Linked DNA regions of Homo sapiens. The protein of the gene in region 2 purifies or fractionates together with the protein of the main gene of each other region. This does not show direct contact. Each region holds a gene or a part of one and is shown on either strand. Other genes may lie near its edges.

What was found.
Region 1: the proteins of MMAB (region 2) and ZDHHC5 purify together in Homo sapiens (co-immunoprecipitation; 2 studies listed by BioGRID and IntAct, with this or other methods). This does not show direct contact.

What each region holds. Positions count from the first base shown.
Region 1 is NC_000011.10:57,684,901-57,692,198, reverse strand, and holds part of ZDHHC5 (palmitoyltransferase ZDHHC5), read right to left. Parts: intron 3,692-7,298; coding exon 3,534-3,691; intron 2,169-3,533; coding exon 1,996-2,168; intron 1,865-1,995; coding exon 1,762-1,864; intron 1-1,761. UniProt on the Homo sapiens protein: Palmitoyltransferase that catalyzes the addition of palmitate onto various protein substrates such as CTNND2, CD36, GSDMD, NLRP3, NOD1, NOD2, STAT3 and S1PR1 thus plays a role in various biological processes including cell adhesion, inflammation, fatty acid uptake, bacterial sensing or cardiac functions.
Region 2 is NC_000012.12:109,552,917-109,556,504, forward strand, and holds the end of MMAB (corrinoid adenosyltransferase MMAB precursor), read right to left. Parts: 3' UTR 799-3,588; downstream 1-798. UniProt on the Homo sapiens protein: Converts cob(I)alamin to adenosylcobalamin (adenosylcob(III)alamin), a coenzyme for methylmalonyl-CoA mutase, therefore participates in the final step of the vitamin B12 conversion.

The DNA.
Region 1 (7,298 bases), on a different chromosome or scaffold from region 2:
AAAAATATATAAAAACTAGCCGGGCATGGTGTCAGGCACCTGCAATCCCAGCTACTTGGGTAGCTGAGGCAGGAGAATTGCTTGAAGCCAGGAGGCAAAGGTTGCAGTGAGCCGAGATCGTGCCACTGCGCCCCAGCCAGTGGGCTCCAGCCAGTGGGCTCCAGCCTGGGTGACAAAGCGATACTCTGTCTCAAAAAAGAAAAAAAAAAAGCAATTAAGGTTAGCTACTATTATATGCACAAAAATCATTGCTTTCCTGTAAGCAGCACTATAAGCTTCTTGAGGGCTAGCCTAAGTCTTTCATTGTTTCTATAAACTCAGAGCCTAAATTCTCCAGTATCCAGTGGGCATATAGTAAATGTCTGTTAACTAAGAAGTGGCCTCTATTCTTTTTTTTTTTTAGGAAGATCTTAAATATTTATATGTATATGAACATATATGTACATATACATATGTCTTGCTACACTTTAAATTTAAAAATCTATTAATATGATTTTTGACAAACTAAAGAAAGAATACTATTATTTGGATACCAAGTTCTATGGTGAGTATTGTTTAAAAAACTATCATCTTATTCTTTATGCTATATTGTCTAGTTTCAGTTTGGTTTGGGTCTCTCAATTGATATTTCAGGTGATGATGCCAAACCATCCAAGACTTTCTTTGGAGATAGATATTATTTTGTTATAAAATATATTTTTAGGCTGGGCGCAGTGGCTCATGCCTGTAATCCCTGCACTTTGGGAGGCCGAGGTGGGCGGATCACGAGGTCAAGAGATCGAGACCATCCTGGCTAACATGGTGAAACCCCGTGTCTACTAAAATTACAATAAATAAATAAATAAATAAAAGATATTTTAGCACTTTGGGAGGCTGAGGTGGGTGGATCACCTGAGGTCGGGAGTTCGAGACCAGCCTGGCCAACATGGTGAAACCCTGTCTCTACTAAAAATACAAAAATTAGTTGGGCGTGGTGATGCACATCTGTAATCTCAGCTACTTGGGAGCCTGAGGCAGGAGAATCGCTTGAACCCAGGAGGCAGAGGTTGCAGTGAGCCAAGATCACGCCACTGGATGCCAGCCTGGGCGACAGATCAAGACTCTGTCTCAAAAAAATAAAAAATAAAAAAAGATATTTTAGGGCAAAATTCAGCCTTTATCTCTATTGTCTTAGTATCTCTTTGAGAGTATCTTTATTATTATTATACTTACAGCTCTAGGGTACATATGCACAACATGCAGGTTTGTTACATATGTATACATGTGCCATGTTGGTGTGCTGCACCCATTAACTCGTCACTTACATTAGGTATATCTCCTAATGCTATCCCTCCCCGCTCCCCCTGCCCCACAACAGGCCCCAGGGTGTTATGTTCCCCACCCCGTGACCAAGTGTTCTCATTGTTCAGTTCCCACCTATGAGTGAGAACATGCGGTGTTTGGTTTTCTGTCCTTGCGACAGTTTGCGCAGAATGATGGTTTCCAGATTCATCCATGTCCCTACAAAGGACAAGAACTCATCCTTTTTTATGGCTGCATAGTATTCCATGGTGTATATGTGAGAAATGGCCTCTATTCTTACATGGCCTCTACACTTACATGAGGAACTAGGACTACCTCACTCCCTACCATTAATCTCTACATAATCATGAAAAGTATTCATTAAGCATCTCTTTGTGGAAGCACTACACTGCACACTAATCAGAAGGCTAAAGAGACATGACCTGCTCTTCAGGGGTCTCTCGTCACTTTTCTCCATACCTGTTCATTGGTTGTGCGTCCCCTGGCCACCAGAACCACGTGAAATCCCGTGAGGCCAGCTACAGGGATGAAGAATAAGCCAGCCACACACATTACTGCCATTCTGATGCCAAACAATCAAGGAGAACAGAGCAACATGACCTCACTTTCCCCGGCCCCTACTGCAGCCATTTTCCCTTTAGCCCTCATTCCTCCCCCTTCCAATCCCACAATCTAAAAGGCCTTGAAGGATACGTGACAGCCGTGCGGACCCCTGAGAGTTCCTCTATGTGGTAGAGGACATAAAGGAGGCCAAAGCCAAACACACCCATAATGTGGGCTGTCAGGGAAAGGAGGAAAAGGAAAAAATAACGGTAGTTCCGGCGACCAATACAGTTATTCACCCAGGGGCAGTGATGATCAAATTCCTAGGGACAAAGAGAGACAGATGAGAGGCATCCCTGGACCATAGCATTAAATTACTTCTGTCAAGAAGAGAAACAAATGGCAGCTAAGTTTTGATCATGGTCACCAATTAGTTCAAAATTAAATCCAGTTTATTTTGCTCTATAAATCTGCAAGGGAGACCTTCCAGAGGTTGGTCAAAGGCCAAGGCCAACCAGGCGTAGTGGTGCACACTTGTAGTCCCAGCTACTTGGGGGGCTGGGGCTTGAGCCCAGGAGTTCAAGGCTGTAGTGAACTATGATGACTGCCTGTGAATAGCCACTGTACTGGGCAACATAGCAAGACCCCATCTCTTAAAAAAAAAAAAAAAAAAAAATTGGCCGGGCGCGGTGGCTCACGCCTGTAATCCCAGCACTTTGAGAGGCCGAGGCGGGTAGATCACGAGGTCAGGAGTTCAAGACCAGCCTGACCAACATGGTGAAACCCCATCTCTACTAAAAATACAAAAATTAGCCGGGCGTGGTAGCGCGTGCCTGTAATCCCAGCTACTCAGGAGGCTGAGGCAGGAGAATCGGTTGAACCCGGGAGGCGGAGGATGCAGTGAGCCGAGATTGCGCCATTGCACTCCAGCCTGGGCAACAGAGCGAGACTCCGTCTCGATAAATAAATAAATATATATATATATAAAAAAGACCAAGGCCGGCTCTCAATGTTTATCCTATGTGACCAAGGAACTCTAAAAGTGACGAATGTCAGAGGTTTTGCAGAAACATCAAGATTCATAAGAAAAGAGGATTAGAAGGAAGATTTGGCAGGTAACTGCTTATAGCTAAGTGAAAATGGAATGGAAAAAGGACAAGGGATGCAGAAGGACAGGCAGGAAAACAACTACAACAAATTGAAACACAACAGCATGATTTTCTGGAAGAGAAAATGCAAAGCCAGGATAAATAACCAAAACTGAGCCAATAGATAGAAGGCTAGAACTATAAATCTTGGTGTCAAGAAAGCCTACACCCTGCTAGTGCAATGGCTCATGCCTGTAATCCCAGCACTCAGCACTCTGGGAGGCCAGGGCATGAGGATCACTTGAAGCCAGGAATTTGAGATAGTCCAAGCAACACAGTGAGACCTCATCACTACAAAAAGTAAAAATAAATAAAAAAGAAAGCCTATGCCCATATTGAGTTAAAGCTTCCCTCCTGCAATAATATTTATGCTCTGCCTCTCATGCCATGTCATTATTAACACCATTTGACAGAGCTGGACCATGTGGCCAACGTAGTTAGACAGGACTATACCACATCCAAAGCTAAGAATCTATTATATGGTTAGGATGAAGACAATGAAGGTTAAGCATGAAGTCTTACCCCACCCAGGGTGCTTACCTCCACACAGTTGTCACAGACACTGCAGTGGGAACATCGAGGGGGACGGTAAAAGCGGCAGGTGGCACACCATTTCATGCGCACCTGGATGCCCTTTATCTCCACTGTTTTGTAAAGGGGAGCTCGGAAATCATCTTCCTTGTCCTCATCCTCCTCAGCTGTAGAGAGGAAAAGTCAATTAAAAACAACTATGCCAGAACTGTAGTAAGTGCTAGGGATTCAATGATGTTTAAAATATAGCTTCTGCCTTTGAGGAATTCACAGTCTAATGAGTGAGACTAGGAACTAGGAACTATAAGACTGTGAGGTCAGGTCTTTATACAACACTATGGGAACATGGATGAGGGAGCAATTTATTCTGCATTGGGAAGTGAGGTTCGAGATAAAATGACTCAAGAGGTAGCTCTTGTATGCATCTGCTGGTGTTATTTGGTTTAAGTATATGAATATATTTTAAAGAAATAGTTTACATATCAAAGCACATACATAATGAGTTTGCATAAGAGTTCAGTATCTACATTTATATGAGTGAACTATAGCAATCCAAGAGAGGAACTAACATCAACCTTTTTTTCCAGGCACGAATCCTTTGCCCAGCCAACCATGGTGGCTCACGCCTGTAATCCCAACACTTTGGGAGGCCGAGAAGGGCGGATTGCCTGAGCTCAGGAGTTCAAAACCAGCACGGCCAACATGGTGAAACCTCGTCTCTACTAAAAACACAAAAATTAGCCTGGTGTGGTGGCATGCACCTGTAGTCCCAGCTACTCAGGAGGCTAAGGCAAGAGAATCGCTTGAACCCGGGAAGTGGAGGTTGCAGTGAGCTGAGATCACGCCACTGCACTCAAGCCTGGGCAACACAGCAAGACTTCATCTTCATCTTAAAAAAAAAAAAAAAAAAAAAAAAAACTTTCCCAAAATGTCTTCCCCTACTCTATGAATTTTCTCTACATATACGTATTTCAGTATTATTTGTTGCACAAGCATAAATGCCCTTTCTCTCAATTTTCAGCTATCAGAAACCCACCATCCCATTTCAAAACTTAAAAGACATTATTTGCCTTCTCATATACAGTTAGCAATTTTTTTTTTCTTGAGACGGAGTCTTGCTCTGTTACCCAAGCTGGAGTGCAAGGGCGTGATCTTGGCTCACTGCAACCTCCACCTGCCGGGTTCAAGTGATACTTCTGTCTCAGCCTCCCAAACAGCTGGGATTACAGGCGCACGCCACTTCGGCAGCTAATTTTTTGTATTTTTAATAGAGACGGGGTTTTACCGTGTTCCCCAGGCTGGTCTCAAACTCCTGAGCTCAGGCAATCCACCTGCCTCAGCTTCCCAAAGTATTAAGATTACAAGCATGGGCCACCGCACCCAGAGCAATTTTTATTATTAACCTAGAAAAAAAAAATGTGGGAAGGAAAAATTAAATAGATGATAGTGTGGAATTAAAAATTAAGTTTTCAAATTTTACTGATTTCTTTACATAGCATTTTTTCATATTTACATCACAAGAAATGCTAGGTAAAGAACTGTACAGCTGGGTACGGTGGCTCATGCCTGTAATCCCAGCACTTTGGGAGGCCAAGGAGGGCAGATGACTTGAGGCCAGGAGTTCAAGACCAGCCTGGCCAAAATGGCGAAACCCCATCTCTACAAAAAATATAAAAATTAACCAGGGGTGGTGGCACACGCCTGTAATCCCAGCTACTTGGGAGGCTGAGGCAGGAGAATGGCTTGAATCTGGGAGGCAGAGGTTGCAGTAAGCCAAGATCATGCCACTGCACTCCAGCCTTGGTGACAGAGTAAGACACTGTCTGGAAAAAAAAAAAAAACACACACACACACAAATATATACTGCAGATACATGGTATACATAAATATACACATATATTTTTTAAGTCTTCAAAATATTGCAAGGATATATACCACAATATAACAGTAGTTAGCTCTGGTCTGTGAAATTATAGGTAATGTTTTGCCTTTTTTGTACTTCGTACATAATGAATGTGCACTACTTATTGAAATCTTTAAATAAAAGATTTTTTCTTTTGGTCAGGCACAGTGGCTCATGCCTGTAATCCCAGCACTCTGGGAGGGTGAGGCAGGTGGATCATTTGAGGTCAGGAGTTCCAGAGTAGCTTGGCCAACATGGTGAGACCCCATCTCTACTAAAAATACAAAAATTAGCCAGGCACGGTGGCACGCTCCTGTAATTCCAGCGACTCGGGAGGCTGAGGTAGAATAATTGCTTGAACCCGAAAGGCAGAGTTTGCAGTGAGCCGAGATGGAGCCACTGCACTCCAGCCTGGGCAACAGAGAGTGAGACTCTGTCTCAAAAAAAAAAAGATTTTTTTCTTTTAAAGGGAAAAAATTCAAATGCTATTTTTCTTTTAAGAGAGTTTTGCTCTATCACCCAGGCTGGAGTGCTGTGCTGCGACCACAGCTCACTGCAGCCCTGAACTCCTGGGCTCAACTGATCCTCCAACCTCAGCCTCCCAAGTAGCTGGAACCGCAGGTGGGCACCAGCATGCCCAGTTGCAATGCTCCTTATTTTGAAATGTCTGATCCTTCTACATCATCATCTACCAGAAGTGATCTCTTTGATTACTCTTACACAATGTATTTGTTTTTTGTTTGTTTGTTTTGAGATGTAGTCTCACACTGTCGCTGGAGTGCAGTGGCGCAATCTCAGCTCACAGTAACCTCCACCTCCCGGGTTCAAGCGATTCTCCTGCCTCAGCCTCCCGAGTAGCTGGGATTACAGGCATGCGCCACCACGCCCGGCTAATTTTGTATTTTTAGTAGAGACAGGGTTTCTCCATGTTGGTCAGGCTTGTCTCGAACTCCCAACCTCAGGTGATCCACTCACCTGGGCCACCCAAAGAGTTGGGATTACAGGCGTGAGTCACGGCACCCGGCCCACGGTGTATTTGTTTATAGAGGTGTCTTCCTATCTTCCTTTCTAGTCTGAGCTATTTGAAAGGAATGACCTTTTTATTTTTTATTTACTTTTCTTCAGATGGAGTTTTGCTCTTATCGCCCAGGCTAGAGTGCAATGGGGCAATCTCGGCTCATCACAACCTCCACCTCCCAGGTTCAAGCAATTCTCCTGTCTCAGCCTTCCAAGGAGCTGGGGTTACAGGCACGTGCACTACCATGCCTGGCTAATTTTTATATTTTTAGTAGAGACGGGGTTTCGCCATGTTGGCCAGGCTGGTCTCGAACTCCTGACCTCAAGTGATCCGCCCTGGCCTCCCAAAGTGCTGGGATTACAGGCGTAAGCCACCACGCCCGGCCAGCAATGACCTTCTTAAAAACCCCAAATGACCATCATAGTGCCTTCCATAATACATCAATAAATATTTGATGAATGAACATTAAAGGCTCATTAAAATAGCCTTTCTTGGCTTTAGGGACACAAAGTTCTTTTCCCTCACCCAATCTTTGAAGGGAAGTCACAAACAAAGCACAATGATGTAGGCTTTGGGAGCACAATGAAGTTCTTTTTTTCTTTCTTTTTGAGACGGAGTCTTGCTGTTGCCCAGGCTGGAGTGCAATGGCACAATCTCGGCTCACTGCAAACTCTGCCTCCCCCACTCAAGCGATTCTCCTGCCTCAGCCTCCCAAGTAGCTGGGATCACAGGCACCCACCACCATGTCGGGCTAATTTTTGTATTTTTCAGTAAAGACAGGGTTTTACCATGTTGACCAGGCTGGTCTTAAAGTCCTGACCTCAGGTGATCTGCCCACCTTGGCCTCCCAAAG
Region 2 (3,588 bases):
TGTAATAACAGGAGCTAATATTTGCCAGGGGGCAATATTACTCTTTTAAGTATTACCTCATTAAACAATCCCAGTGACCCATGGGGTGGATGTTATGATTCCCATTCTATAGGTGGAGGAGCAAGACCGAGACAGATGGAATGACTTGCCCAGTCACCAAGGCAGGAGGTGACAAAGCTGGCCTTGAACCTGAGCCTGCCTGGGGCCAGTGCCCAAGCCAGCTGTTTGACAGTCCTTCCCTGCACCCCACAACCCTACAAGCATCAAAGGTCACCCAGCAGCCTCTCCCAGCCAGCCCCAAGTGCATCTTCTCACCCTTCCAGGCTGGAGCTATCTGACCCTGAAACAGGCTGCTGAAGGCAGCCTTGGGAATCCTGACTTAGCTCCCGAAGAGGGTCGCATGGGTTCTCTTAGAAAAGGGATTCTTACCGGGAGGTTCCATGGACTTCCTATGACTGGATGCAAACTTGTGAATATGTGTGTGTGCATTCCAAAGGTGACAAACCACAGCTTGAGAAGTTTCTGATTCTGTGGAATGGGAGAACACGAGGGATGTCCCCAAAGTTTCTAGGTCTCCGCAATCTGCCTGTCCCTGCCTCTGTTGGACTTTAGCACTATCTTCCAGGAGGACTCTGAGAGAAGAAAAGCAATAGGCCAAGGCAAGTTAAAACTGTGCCGCCTGCCTCTAGCTGGACTGACTGCAAAGATGCATTTATTCCAGCTTGTGTCAGTATTGCCAGAAGATTCTCAGGCCCCGCCAGAGGGGAGGGATGAGCCACAAATCCTTCCAGGCACTGATTTATGTAGCATTCATGCGGAATTTATTATACAAAGAATTTTATTCAATTAAACTTGAAATGCATCTGGATTCTTAAAGGTTCAGTAGTGATCACTGGGACAGGGCGATCATAAAACTGAATGGGCTGTCGGAAGGTGTCGAGGCAGCAGCAAGGGTGACATTGCCACTGACGGGGGCTTCCGAACTGGGGACGTTTGTCATTGGGATGTGTTACAAGTTCGGGCTGTGGAAATTACTCGATGAAAAACGCACATTAACGATAGCCATGAAATATTAGTTAAGGGAAACTAGGTTGAGAAATGAGACAGCAGGATCTATCAGAGCCTGGCATTGTTCGCCACAGCCCAGGTAGTGATTAAAACGACTGTCAAGCGGCAGTGGGTGGGAGCTGAGGAGCACGGGGCTGTGAGTGACGAGGCCGCGTCCGGGGCTCACATCTTGGCACTGACTCCCCAGGACAACTTGGTTCCCCACCCAATGCCTCCTTCCAGGGCTGCTATGGGGTTCAAATGAGATAATGTCTGTGGAACACTTGGCTCAGGGCACTGCACATAGCAAGCCCTTCCACAGTGCGGGCTGGTGTCACTGTGACTGTGGGCTTCTCTCTGACACAAGAGCCAACTGCCAGCTTGTCTCTGGAAATGACACTAAACACCCCATTCCAGGGAGCCTGACCTGGAGGCGGAGGAGGCATTTTCATGGGTGCAAAATGTAAGGAAGTGCCCACAAACTCAGGGATCGAGTAGTATTTGTGTGCAATATTTTCCAAAATCAAATTATGAAAAAAATCTACGATAAGCAAGGGATCACGACTTTAAATAAAAACAGGCTGCTGTTTGTTTCAAAACCCCGTGTTCCCGTGCAATGGGACTGATTGTTTCTGAGAGTTGCCAGTGGTGTGCAAACACTGGGGCAGCGGGGGCTTCGCAGTCACATTTCCTGACTGTAGGGCTTTCATTAACTTTTCCCACCTGGTTCAAAATATGGGAGGACATTTGCTCAGTGTACAGAGGGGTACACATCTTTTCTTTTGCCTCGGGCTCTTGATAGAGCTTTTGAAAGGCACTGCAGAAGAGCAAATGTTTTAAACACCCCATCCTTCCAGCCCCCAAAGCAAGCTTTCTCCATTTTTCCCAGGTTGGTAGCACAGGAGAGAAACACCTGCTGAGTGGTGGCATCTGCCCTGCACCCAGGTGGTTTCTCAGAGAAGTGTTTGCTGGTGAACCGGGAGACAGATACAGAGGCGGGGGTCTGAGAACGCGACTGTTAACATCCAGGCTGTGACACCCGGTCCTGGAAGGACAGGACTTGGCAACAGGTGAACGGCCTTGTTTCAAAGATTGTCACTTTAGGATGTTGTATTTACTCAAAAAGCTTTCCTTATCCTTTGGAGGCTGTGCTTTCCCATGGCTAGGCATGCAGGGCTGCTGTGTTATTTTATATATATATATATATTCCAGGAAGATTTTGAGATTTTGAGGTGTAGACAGAATTGAGTGATTCGCTGCAAGCTCTTTGAACATACTCCCTGACCGAGCCTTAGTGATTGCGTTTTCAGGGTTTTTTTTTTTTTTTTTTTTTTTTTGTGACGGAGTCTCACTCTATCAGCCAGGCTGGAGTGTCGTGTCACGATCTTGGCTCACTGCAGCCTCTGCCTCGTAGGTTCAAGTGATTCTCCTGCCTCAGCCTCCTGAATAGCTGGGATTACAGGCACCCGCCACCATGCCCAGCTAATTTTTTTTTTTTTTTTTTTTTTTTAGCAGAAATGGGGTTTTACCATGTTGACCAGGCTGGTCTCAAACTCCTGACCTCAGGTGATCTGCCTGCCTCGGCCTCCCAAAGTCCGTTTTCAGCTCTGTTTTGCAAACACTGAGCACCGACTCCGTACCAGACCTGGTAGTGACGATGGGGGCAGGGAGGCACGGAACAAAGCCACCTCCTGGAAGGCATTCACACACTCCTGGTCATCTGCACCTCACCCACCCTGCCCAAGGCTCAAGAGGGCCATCACAGCCTGTCAGCAATGAAAGGACCCAGAAGACACAAGTGAATATACCTGGCCCTCCTGCAAACTTTGCAGGCCAGGTGGTAAGAATGAAGGCAAAAATATGCACGTGACTAAGAAGGTAATGTTTGCTGACTTGCCAGCAAGAAAGATGGCCGGAAAGACCAGCTGTCCCGAGCCTAGCGCGGTGGCCCATGCTAAGCAGCCACTCAGTCAATATGTGATGGCTGAATGGAGTTCGCCAGGCATTTCAGCCCTGAAACTGGACAAGAGCCTGCCCTTCCAAAGTCATTTCCTGCAATTAGCAGCCTGCAGTCTTTAGGTTCTTGGGGCTGCCTCTTCTGCCCTTCATAAATATTGCCTTTCCCAAGGACACTGCTGGCACTGGCAGTGTCGTTTCATAGCAGGAGGGAGCAGCAGTGACAACTGAAATAAATACAGCCGTGGCACCGATCTCAGAGGCATAAGCCAGCCAAGTGCAACATCGGAGAAATCAGTCTGGTGGATGTCAGCCTTGCTGGAAACTGACAACCTCATTTTCTCAAGCTGAAGATGCTGCACCGCAGACCCTTGACTCAGTCCAACCAGACAGGGAATGTTCACCTTCAAGTGGTAGTGTTGTTCTCATCAGCATCTCCATCCCTTTCAGAGGGGGTCCTCTAAGCTGCACCCCCATCACACACACTTCAATCTAAGCCAGGAGTTTCTGAGCCTCGCCTGTCAATCTGCAGCTATCCTTCCCCCACACTTTGGCGGTGATGGGTGGCTCAGAGGTGACTAAACT